Homo sapiens: one gene and its partners. The protein of the gene in region 3 purifies or fractionates together with the protein of the main gene of each other region. This does not show direct contact. Each region holds a gene or a part of one and is shown on either strand. Other genes may lie near its edges.

What was found.
Region 1: the proteins of RDH12 (region 3) and ARPIN purify together in Homo sapiens (affinity purification with mass spectrometry; 3 studies listed by BioGRID and IntAct, with this or other methods). This does not show direct contact.
Region 2: the proteins of RDH12 (region 3) and TKFC purify together in Homo sapiens (affinity purification with mass spectrometry; 3 studies listed by BioGRID and IntAct, with this or other methods). This does not show direct contact.

The regions. Positions count from the first base shown.
Region 1 is NC_000015.10:89,899,256-89,903,002, forward strand, and holds part of ARPIN (arpin), read right to left. Parts: intron 2,549-3,747; coding exon 2,540-2,548; 3' UTR 1-2,539. UniProt on the Homo sapiens protein: Regulates actin polymerization by inhibiting the actin-nucleating activity of the Arp2/3 complex; the function is competitive with nucleation promoting factors.
Region 2 is NC_000011.10:61,343,176-61,346,922, forward strand, and holds part of TKFC (triokinase/FMN cyclase), read left to right. Parts: intron 1-166; coding exon 167-283; intron 284-680; coding exon 681-800; intron 801-960; coding exon 961-1,098; intron 1,099-2,084; coding exon 2,085-2,191; intron 2,192-2,286; coding exon 2,287-2,390; intron 2,391-2,536; coding exon 2,537-2,570; intron 2,571-2,681; coding exon 2,682-2,771; intron 2,772-3,119; coding exon of another isoform or gene 3,120-3,149; exon of another isoform or gene 3,150-3,175; coding exon 3,176-3,328; 3' UTR 3,329-3,747.
Region 3 is NC_000014.9:67,725,875-67,729,621, reverse strand, and holds part of RDH12 (retinol dehydrogenase 12), read right to left. Parts: intron 3,572-3,747; coding exon 3,467-3,571; intron 2,642-3,466; coding exon 2,432-2,641; intron 731-2,431; exon of another isoform or gene 432-730; coding exon 242-431; exon of another isoform or gene 1-241. UniProt on the Homo sapiens protein: Retinoids dehydrogenase/reductase with a clear preference for NADP. Displays high activity towards 9-cis, 11-cis and all-trans-retinal. Shows very weak activity towards 13-cis-retinol.

The DNA of each region.
Region 1 (3,747 bases), on a different chromosome or scaffold from region 3:
GTATTTTTTGGTAGAGACGGGGTTTCACTGTGTTGATCAGGCTGGTTTCGAACTCCTGACCTCAAGTGATCCGCCCACCTCGGCCTCCCAAAGTGCTAAGATTACAGGCGTGAGCGACTGCACCCAGCCCTGGGGCCCTGTTCTTATCCTCAGCCCACTTGGTTTTCCCATCCCTAGGGAGCTAGTTTCAGTTCTCTATACTTCTTAGCCACAGGCTGGGCTCCTGCTAAACAGCAGGTCACCCGGAAACATAACATCACTACTTGTGCACCACAGCACTGCCACTCACCCAGAATCTGGGCATCATTCTTGATCCCTTCGTCTCCCCCCAGGTCCTGTTGATTTTGCCCCCCGAATGCCCCTCAAATCATTCTCTTCTTTCCATCTCCCCTGCCACTGCTATAGACCAGACCCCTCTAGCCTCTCACCCAGGCAACTGCAGCAGTCTCCTAAAGGAGCAACTCGCCTCCAGCTGCTCGGCAGTCAAGTGACCTTTGAAACACAGATCAGATCTTCTCACTCTCCATGGGATCACTGGCTTCCAGGATGTTAAGGATAAAGTCCCCAATTCCTTAACATGCGTGAGGATGCCATGCCCAATCTCCAGCCTCATCTCAAACACCAGCCCCCATTCTCTGAGCTCCAGACACAATGGTCTTTCCCTTCCTGAAGCCCATCCAAGACACCCCGCCCTTTTTGTTGCTTTAGGACCTCTCCTATTGACACACTGGGCCTCCTTGTTTGGAATGGTGACCTGTCCATATAAGTGTGCCATACCCTTTGGACACAGTGCTTTAGACAGCAGGATGTCTAAAGACACTGGGTGACTCTACCCCCAGTCAGTGTCCCCAGCTATCCTTCTGCTCAACCACCTCCCTGGCCACCCCCATGGCTGAGGTCCCAGCATGGCCTGCCTGTGAGAAAGTCCCATTCAGACACAGAACACCAGTGAAGTGGCTACCACATCCTCTGGCCCCTGTTTCCAAGACCTTTCTGAAGGGCAAGGAAGCAGGGGACAGTGGAAGGAACATAAGGTTTGCTTTTGACAGCTCTGGGTTTGAATCCTGATTCTGCTACTCATTAGCTGTGTGACTCTGGGCAGGTTGCTTAACCTGTCTGAGACCCTTTTCCTGCTCTGTAATATGAATAGTCCGGTAGTTAAGAATGTGGGCTTTGAAATCTGAGTGCTTGGATGTAAATTCCTCTTGCCACTGTATACTATCCTAGAGCTCTGAGCTTTAGTCTCATGAGAAAATGGGAATAATAATCAGTACCTCATGGACTGTTGTGAGAAGTACGATATCGCAAGTGCTTAGCACAAGTATGAGTAATTATTATCATGGAAATCATCTAGCATTGTGTTCGACACATTAGGGGGACTCCATAATTATTAGTTCACCACCACCCTCTCTTTTCCCAAGTCAAGCAAGATCCACATGCCACCAAGTCCTGACGACATGGAGACTTCAATTCCAGGTCTCTTCACAGATCTGGGTGTGGGTATACTACCCAAAAGGCAGTGTTCATGAGCCAAGAGAAATGGCTTCCTTCTCATAGGAACATTGCTCAGCTGAAAGGCCGTTTACACCTGACAATAACCCAGTAAGGGTGGAGGAATTCCTTTCTGAAGATTTACTCATTCATAAAAAGTTCTCCAGGTACAAAACAACAACAAAAAAGGTATTCTCAAAACTGTAGCCTGGCAGAGTGAGTCTGAGAGATGCGGACCAGCCAGCCACGCCTGGGAACGCTGTTGGCCTCTCTGGGAATGGCATCTACCAGGAAAGCAGCCAGGGATGTCAGATAACAGAAACCCCAGAGGTGGCATGGGAACATTTGAGGGAGTAAAGAACTGGCAACTCAAGGTAGGGGGAAGGTACAAGGGACACGGAGGCTTGAAGCAGGATAGTACAGGCTACAACACAGAGTGCTGAGGAAGGGGTGGGTGGGGAAGGAAAGCAGGAAACAATGAGAACGGAGGAAGAGCCCCGCTAACTTCTCTCAGCTGCTCTGCATTTAGACAAGGGATATTCCCCACTCCGCACCAATACCAGGTCCAGTTACTCTCAGGCTGTCCTAGGGTCTCTCCCACCACCTGCCTCTACAAACAAAGCTGCTATCCAGGGCCAGGGTCAACATGAGGCTGGGTGCAGTGGCTCACGCCTGTAATCCCAACACCTTGGGAGGTGGAGGGGGGTGGATCGCTTGAGTCCAGGAGTTTGAGATCAGCCTGGGCAACATAGTGAGACCTCCATCTCTAATTTTTTTTTAAAGGGTCATCATGTAATGTCTAGGAAGGCTAGACTCACATGCAGGGAGGGGCCCTCCCTGAGCCACAGCATGAGGCCCCACCACCAACACAGTGGTCATGGGTTTGGTTTTAGCAGAGCTTGTTCAAAGAGTATTCCAAGGTGGCTATGGGGAAGAACCAGGTAAGACTTGGCAGACTGTTCTCTCCAGCTCCAGAGTAGAAGTTCATGGAAGAAATGTTCCACAATGCTACAGAAGGTGCTGGTGCCCCCAGAGGCAGCCACGTCCCTCAGTCATCCTAGAGAAATCCAAGGGGTAAAGAGATGTGGAGACAGCACATGTCATAAACGTCACTGCAAGTTATCAGACAAACAAGGGTTCAATTGCGTGGTACCTGTGGGGCCCATGAGTGCTTGCCTGGGCGCCTCATTAGAGCTGGCCCGGCAGCTCCAACAGCTCTTGGACTGTTTTTCAGTCCAAGATTCGCTTTATGAAGACAAAAAGGAATCCAGACACTCTCATCTGCGTGCGCCTGCTTTCTCTGGCAAAAGACATCATCTCCATTACCTAGATAAATAGTGCATTTTTCTGTGACTTCGTTGCTTCAGATGTTCATTTTGAGGCCAGGTGTGGTGGCTCAAGCCCGTAATCCCAGCACTTTGGGAGCCTGAGGCAGGTGGATCACCCGAGGTCGGGAATTCGAGACCAACCAGCCCAACATGGAGAAACCTCGTCTCTACTAAAAATACAAAATTAGCCAGGCATGGTGGCGCATGCCTGTAATCCCAGCACTTTGGGAGGCTGAGGCAGGAGAATTGCTTGAACCCGGGAGGCAAAGGTTGCAGTGACCTGAGATGGCGCCATTGCACTCCAGCCTGGGCAATAAGAGTGAAACTCCGTCTCAAAAAAATAAAATAAAATAAAATAATAAATGTTCATTTTGGGGCCTTATGACATCAATTCAAGTCTTTGGGTAAAATATACTTCAGAAAAACAACTGTGAACCTGGGCAACATGGCAAAACCTCGTCTCTACAAAAAATAAAAAAATTAGCCAGGCGTGGTGATGCATGCCTATAGTCCCAGCTACTTGGGAGGCTGAGGTGGGAGGATCATTTGAGCCCAGGAGTTCGAGGCTGCAGTGAGCCATGATCGTGCCCCTGCACTCCAGCCTGGGCAACAGAATGAGACTCCATCTCCCAAAAAAAGAGAAAAGAAATGAAAAGAAAAGCAACTGTGAATAGGCTGAGGATCAACGTGGGGACTGACTCTCATCAAAAGAAAAACCAGTAAGGACCAGGTCAGCCATTCTCCAGACACTTCAGGCAAGGAGCCCAAACCAAAGGAGGAAAAACTACGCATTCAGTTGTTCAACTGCCTCAGCATGGTTAATGTATTCACTTGAAGTAGAAATGTTTTGAGACTTAATGACCATGATTAATATCCCTCTGCACCCCCTCCTTCCTACCACTTGGGAATCTTTGGGGAATAGTTAGGT
Region 2 (3,747 bases), on a different chromosome or scaffold from region 3:
GGAACGTGGTCATTTGTGGGGTTATTGAGGGATGCCTGCCAGGAGGAAATCAGGACATCTCCCTCCCGACCTCAGAGCCCCAGCTTCCAAGGTCCTTGCTTTTCTGTTGTTTTCTTTCCCTGATGCCCATTTTTCCCTTTTGGACTGCCACACTCTGGTATTGCAGAGGGCCGCGGGGTGAAGATTGCCCGTGCCCTGGTGGGCACCTTCATGTCAGCACTGGAGATGCCTGGCATTTCTCTCACCCTCCTGCTGGTGGATGAGCCTCTCCTGAAACTGATAGGTGAGACTTGGAACCTGGGGTCACCCAAGCCAGGGCTCCTTGTAACTGGAAGGAGCCAGGGAGACTTGGAGACCCCGTCAGGGCTGACCGTGACAATCAGGGCTCTGGAGCCTGTGAAGAAGGCTCTTCCTGGGCTTCTCCAGCCTTCTCCAGCTCTCACTGGACTAGAAGGAGTTGGTATTAGGATCCTCCTCAGAGAGGCCTGACCCTTTCCCAGGGACCCTCTCTCCATACCCCTGTATACAGTAGGCACTCAGTCCATGCTTGTCGAGGTGGACTCCCTTCCTCCAGGGCTGCTGAGAAAGCCAGGCCACCAGGGTCAGGATGGGAGGGTCCAAGCCCTGCTGAATCCCTGGCTGGACAGCCGTGTCTAAGAGAGTTATCTTGCTGCCCTTAGATGCTGAAACCACTGCAGCAGCCTGGCCTAACGTGGCTGCAGTCTCCATTACTGGGCGGAAGCGGAGCCGGGTAGCCCCTGCCGAGCCCCAGGAGGCCCCTGATTCCACTGCTGCAGGAGGTACCAACCCCTGCCTTTGGGGAAGGGACAGGCTTCCCAAAGGATGCAGGAGTATACGGTGGGGCGGGTAGGGGCCCTGGCACCCACACCTCCCACCATAGTCAAGTGTGGTTGTGAGAAGGGCCTGGTGGGCCTGTTCTTCAGCATCCTCCCTTTCTAGGCTCAGCCTCGAAGCGGATGGCGCTGGTGCTGGAACGGGTGTGCAGCACTCTCCTGGGCCTGGAGGAACACCTGAATGCCCTGGACCGGGCTGCTGGTGACGGCGACTGTGGCACCACCCACAGCCGTGCGGCCAGAGGTTGGTGCCAGGGACTTTGCCAAGTGAGGTCATTCACAAAACCTTAGCCCCCCTTCCACTTGTTTCCCTGAAGGCAGGGACCTTCCTTTTTTTTTTTTTTTTTTTTTAAGAAGGAATCTCACTCTGTCGCTAGGCTGGAGTATGCAATGGTGTGATCTCGGCTCACTGCAGTCTCCGCCCCCCGGGTTCAAGTGATTTTCCTGCCTCAGCCTCCTGACTAGCTGAGATAACAGGCATGCGCCACCACGCCTGGCTAATTGTTGTGTTTTTAGTGGAGACGGGGTCTCGCCATGTTGGCCAGGCTGGTCTCTAACTCCCCACCTCAAGCCATCCGCTCGCCCTGGCCTCCCAAAGTGCTGAGATTACAGGCATGAGCCACCACACCCGGCCGACAGGGACCTTCTTAACACCACAAATGTATGAGGTTGTTATCTTAGAATTAAATGAAATCCTTCACAGTGAATAACTTACAACTCAAGGCGAACTTATTCTGTTGTCCTTATTTTTCTCAGTTTACCCAGACCAGTGAAAAGCTCTTAACTGTCCAGCATCATTCATTCGAGAAAAAGGTATTTGGTGCCTGCCGTGGGGCAGGCACTGCTCTCAGCTGTGGATACAGTAGTGAACAGAGCAGACAGAAATCACTGCCCTCATGGCTTATGTTCTAGGTGGAAGACAGTCAACCAGATAAATCAGTAAAACACAGAGGATGTTAGCACAAAGGGCTAAGGAGAAAAAAACCAAGCCAGGGAGCAGAGTACAGAGCGTCAAGTGGAGGGCTTCGGGGCAGGCCTCACCTCCCCAGGCCCCTTTCGGTTACGCAGCCCAGCCCCTCTCCAGACTGCACACTGGATGTGGAAAGGGATCTTGGGAAGCCTTCATTCCACTTCCCTGTCGGCCTTTTCCAGCCTTCATTGGTGCTGGCTGGAAGTCTGGCAGATGGAGGGAGGATCTCTGAATTCCTCCCCATCTCTCTCTGCCTGCAGCAATCCAGGAGTGGCTGAAGGAGGGCCCACCCCCTGCCAGCCCTGCCCAGCTGCTCTCCAAGTTGTCTGTCCTGCTCCTGGAGAAGATGGGAGGCTCATCTGGGGCGGTGGGTGCCTGGGGGCTGAAGGGCTGACAGGGAGGTGGCTGGGCTGGCTGGGGTCCAGGCCAGCACCACATGCTCAGCGTTGTCATCTTCCCCAGCTCTATGGCCTGTTCCTGACTGCGGCTGCACAGCCCCTGAAGGCCAAGACCAGCCTCCCAGCCTGGTCTGCTGCCATGGATGCCGGCCTGGAAGCCATGCAGAAGTGAGCCAGAGCCCTGTGCATCAGACCAGGGGTGGGCTGGGGGAGGTGTTTGGTGACATCTGCGCCCTGCCAGGCCCTAGCCCAACCCTCAGAGTGATTCCCTTGGTTCCCTATAGTGAGCCTCTTTCACTCTCTTTCCCTGCCAGGTATGGCAAGGCTGCTCCAGGGGACAGGACTATGGTATGTACTCAGGCTGTGGCCTCAGACCTTTCTCCTTTTGGCCCTGTAAGTCTAAAGAGCACCCTCGGTTGCAGGGCCCGTGCTCAGCCCCCTTTCCTTCACCTTGTCCAGCTGGATTCTCTGTGGGCAGCGGGGCAGGAGCTCCAAGCCTGGAAGAGCCCAGGAGCTGATCTGTTACAAGTCCTGACCAAAGCAGTCAAGGTGAGTGAGGCTGGGCCCAGCCACCTGGGGAGACAGGCTTCTAGCCAGCAGACTCCTGTCTCCATGTGACCCTGAGCAAGTTAATAACCTTCCTGGACCGCAGTTTCCTTCTCTGTACAATGGAGATGAGCACCTATCTCAGAAGGTGGTTATGTGGCTAAGGAAATATGTAGAGCCCCGCACACTGCCTGGGATGTGACAGGGCCTCAGTGAATGGTGACCCTTTTCCCTGCTGGAAGTAGATGAGAAGTGACTTTCCATTTGGTGACAGAGCAGAGGGTGCTGGCAGAGCCAGGGCAAGGGCGTGCAGGGCCAGGCTGCACGGCAGAGACGTTCTGCCCATGGCAGGAAGGAGGCGGCCTGGTGATCTGCCCTTGAACCTGCTCCCACACCCCATCCCCCAGAGTGCCGAAGCTGCAGCCGAGGCCACCAAGAATATGGAAGCTGGAGCCGGAAGAGCCAGTTATATCAGCTCAGCACGGCTGGAGCAGCCAGACCCCGGGGCGGTGGCAGCTGCTGCCATCCTCCGGGCCATCTTGGAGGTCTTGCAGAGCTAGGGTGTGTGACTGCCTCCCTTGGCCTCAGCTCCTCTCACTGCTGTGCTGAGGTGGCCTTTGTCACTTCCTTCTGCCTTCCAACCCTCACCTTCCCCCGGCCTGGCCCCATTGGCCCACCCTCTAAGTTGAGCAGGAAATCCTCCACCAAGCTTCCAGAACTACAGACAGCACCCAGAGTGAGCTGGAGTGGGTCCCCATGCCTCTCCAGCATGCCCTTTCCCTTTGCAGGAGGGTGGAGTCCCTGGGTCATGCCCTCCCCTGCCAGCTCTGGGCTTCAGAGATAAGGCATTTTCCTTGTGCAGCCTTTACCTGGCAATCCTAATTTGGTTTTAAGACTCCCTGTGAAATGCTTTCCGCACCTTAACCCCAGTGAGCGTGAAAAAGAAAGTTAATAAACTATAATACATGGAAGCAAGAAA
Region 3 (3,747 bases):
AAAGTTTTCATGGAAAAGCGGCACACGAGTATAAAATAAAGCCAGAAAAGCAACTCTTCCCAACACATAAGTTTGTACTGTAAGTTTCCTTAACAAAGCAACGGCATTCTGTTTGCAGGCCCAACCCAAACCTGGATTGCATCATCAGGCACAAACTCAGCTTCTCAGGATGAACAGCCCAGCGAGTCCGGCACCTCCCATGCACACAGGTGGTGGAGAGAACCGCATTGCCTTCACACACCTGAAGTACTTGCCACTCAGGGGCTCCAGGCCCTCAGCCAGGGCGCAGTGCAGGCTGGTCTGCGCCCCCTCCCGTGCCGTCTTGACAAAGGGGGAGAAGAGCCGCCAGAGCAGGCAGAGCAGGGAGGAGTGCCGGACCAGCTCAGAGCGGACGACGCCTGGGTGCACTGCGTAGGTGGTGACCCCGGTGCCTGGGACAAAGAGGGCACAATTAGATCAGGGACACACTCTGAGCCCAGGAAAACAGCTTATCTCCTGCAGCAAAATACACAAGTGAGAAGGAGGGACTCAGGAAACATAACCCCAGGATTCAGCAGGTACCACTCCTGGCCAGGCGGAATTTGAACAGGAATGAATTGATCTTTCAGAAAGATCTATAGCCTTCTCAGCCTTCTATGTTCCAAAAGGAGTGCCTGGTTCGAGGTCCTTCTATTTCAATGTCGTTTTTATACTGTGGCTTTAGTACTACTAATAAACATGACAACATGTAGTGAGTAGTATCAATCATTGACAGTGGTATCTTTATCATTTCTAAAGGAGGAGTTTAGGGGTAGCGATCTGATTGGAAGGTGGTGGGTAGGACTTTATTTTGAGCTGCATTTGCCTGGCAAGCACATTTCATGAGGTATAGATTGAGGGATGGTGATGCAGATTGTGGGGGATTAACACCCCCCCCCCACAAGATATCCCTGGTGCGGTCACTATTTTTCAGTACCAATTATGTGCCAGGGCCATACAACATGCTTTAAATGTATTATTTCATTTAATTCTTAAAGAGGCTTGTAAAATAGAATATTATGTTATGATACCCATTTACAACAAAGAAAACTAAGTCACAGAAAGTTTAAGTAAATTGCCTAAGGTTATACCTGGCAGGGTGCAGGGCCAAGGTCTGAACTCTGATGTAAAGTTAAAAACATGGAATGGACTGTCTGCATTTGAATCCTGGCTCAGCTAGGAACCTTCCTTGGGCAAATTTCTTAATCTGTCAGTGCCTGTCTTTTCATATTTAGAGTGGGGGAAAATAATAGCACCCACCTCACAGGAATGTTGCAAGTATTAAATGAGTTAAGATGTGTAGTACATGGCACACATAAACCTCTCAATTATTATTGTAATAGTTATTGTTTATTTTTATGATTACCGTCTTCTTCTACTGTAGGCATTCTGGAAGTGAAGATCATTGTTCCCAAACTCTGGCTTATTCACTGTAACAAATGGACCCCTAGATCCGCAGATGTCAGAGCCAGCAGCTCACCCAGTGCTCCAGGAGAGCACAGAATCATTAAGGAATAAGAACCAGCCTGACCTGATTTTACAGCTGAGAAGATGAAGTCAGGGGAGGTTAAAGGGGCACATCCACATCCACATCCACATGCGGCTAGCATGTGGTAGAGCAAGAACTTGGACCCAGGGGTCTGAAATCCAGCCCTAACTCCCTGAGTCCAGGCAGTGGCAGCTCTGTAGCTCAGATCACCATGTGGACCTCAGCAAATGGCACCCAGAAGGAAGCACCCTAGGTTTAAAGCTGAGCACCCACATTCCGGTTCTGATGCCCTCACCTGCCATATACTCTTTAGCTGGCCATTTCCTTGGACCTCAGCTCTGCTCTATAAACTAGGAGTAATAATACCTGTTACCAAAGGCCTCTTCTGCCAGATCACCTGAGGTCAGGAGTTTGAGACCAACCTGGACAACATGGTGAAAGCTCGTCTCTTCTAAAAATACAAAATTAGCCAGGCGTGATATTGCGTGCTTGTAATCCCAACTACTCAAGAGGCTGATGCAGGAGAATCACTTGAACCCAGGAGGCAGAGGTCGCAGTGAGCCAAGATCGCACTACTGCACTCCAGCCTGGGCGACAAGAGCGAAACTCAAGTCTCAAAAAAAAAAAAACAAAAAAAACAAAAAGCCTCTGTCTGTTGCAAAAAGCTACTGTGAAAATCAAATGAGATAAGAGATAAGATGTGACACAAATACAAGGTAACTTTTTGAGGTTCTTAACCCCTATTTGATTTTAAGCTCCCTGGGGGCAAGCACTCTGTTTTTATTCCATTCATAATTTCATTCTCCTTAGTCCACAGAGATATTACTGACACGTGCATGTTTGACAGCCTGACTTCCCAAGTTGCTGTGGACCTCTAATTTGGTCTGAGGACCATTTTTGCTATTCCTCTTTCTCCAGACTTACCTTGGAGCCTCTTGGCCAGCTCACGAGTAAAAAGCACATTGGCCAGCTTGCTGTGGCAATAGGCAAAACCCCTGCTGTAGCGCTTCTCGCTCTGGAGGTCGTGGAAGGGAATCTTGCCAATGTGGTGAGCCACCGAGGACACATTAACCACCCGTGCAGGGGCAGACACCTTTAGCCGCTCCAGGAGCAGGTAGGTGAGGAGGAAGTGGCCTGTGAGGAGAGCCAGCAGGGAAGATTGAAAGTGGAATGACAGCCCAGGCTCAGCATGTGGGAGCCAAGAGGACTTCAGTGTTAGCTCACTATCTTCTGGGTGTGAACCAATTTTGATGCCATGAGTAACTCTAATGGTCAGTTTGGTCTGAGTTTGTGGATTCCTCAAAGCAAGAGCCAGAGCTAGACTACAAGTAAGGCAATCATACTTAATTATATTACTTTGTACCTCTGCCCTTGACCCACCTGCTGGCTTCCAACTCCCACTCTGGCCATGATCGCATAACTAGGGACCCAGGTACACTTGTGTATAGGCAGAAGGATAGAACAGTCAGGGAAGATAACATTTGCTTAGGATCAGAAAACATGCTCCATGCTCTCCTCCCTAAAGTCTTTGCCTTGAACGCTGAACCCCACCCTGCCTCGTACTCAAGTTCTCAAGGATTGCCTACCTCCGTGGACCAACCCATGGCTTGGTTGGCCATCATGTAGATGTGACCCCTCCAGCCAAGCCCAGATGCCTGCATAACCCCAGGTCTGGCCCTGCCTGGCAAGCCTTGTACTGCCACTGCCCCATCCAAGAATGACATTCTTCTCCCTGGTATTTCCTGAAATTTGGGGCTTCTTAATGGTATGGGTAGGAAGATCTCACTTTTTTAGACTGATCAGGAGAGGTACAGTGAACAACAAGCCAATGGGTCTAGTCTATTGGAATTCCTAGGCTCTATGAAGGCCCCTGGACATTCTCCACATTTACACAGTGTCATCTTCCTAAAGAAAAGATAGTGGGTGTACCTCATTTTTTAGTCACCCAAAGATACTTACCCAGGTGGTTGACTCCCAGGTGGGTTTCAAAGCCATCAGCTGTCTTGGAATATGGACACATCATTACTCCCGCATTGTTGATCAGAATATGGAGCTGCTTTTCCTCTATAGGGCACAACCAAAGAGATCCTATGGTTAGCAAGGAGTCCCCTAGCTGCCTGTAACAGACCTGCATAATTGCCCTTTCCCTTTGTTCATTAGTTGTCTTTGTTGGGGTAACATTTTGATAGGAGTCACTTGCTCTGCCCCTTCCTTTTAAAACAAGGTATTGCCTCAGCACT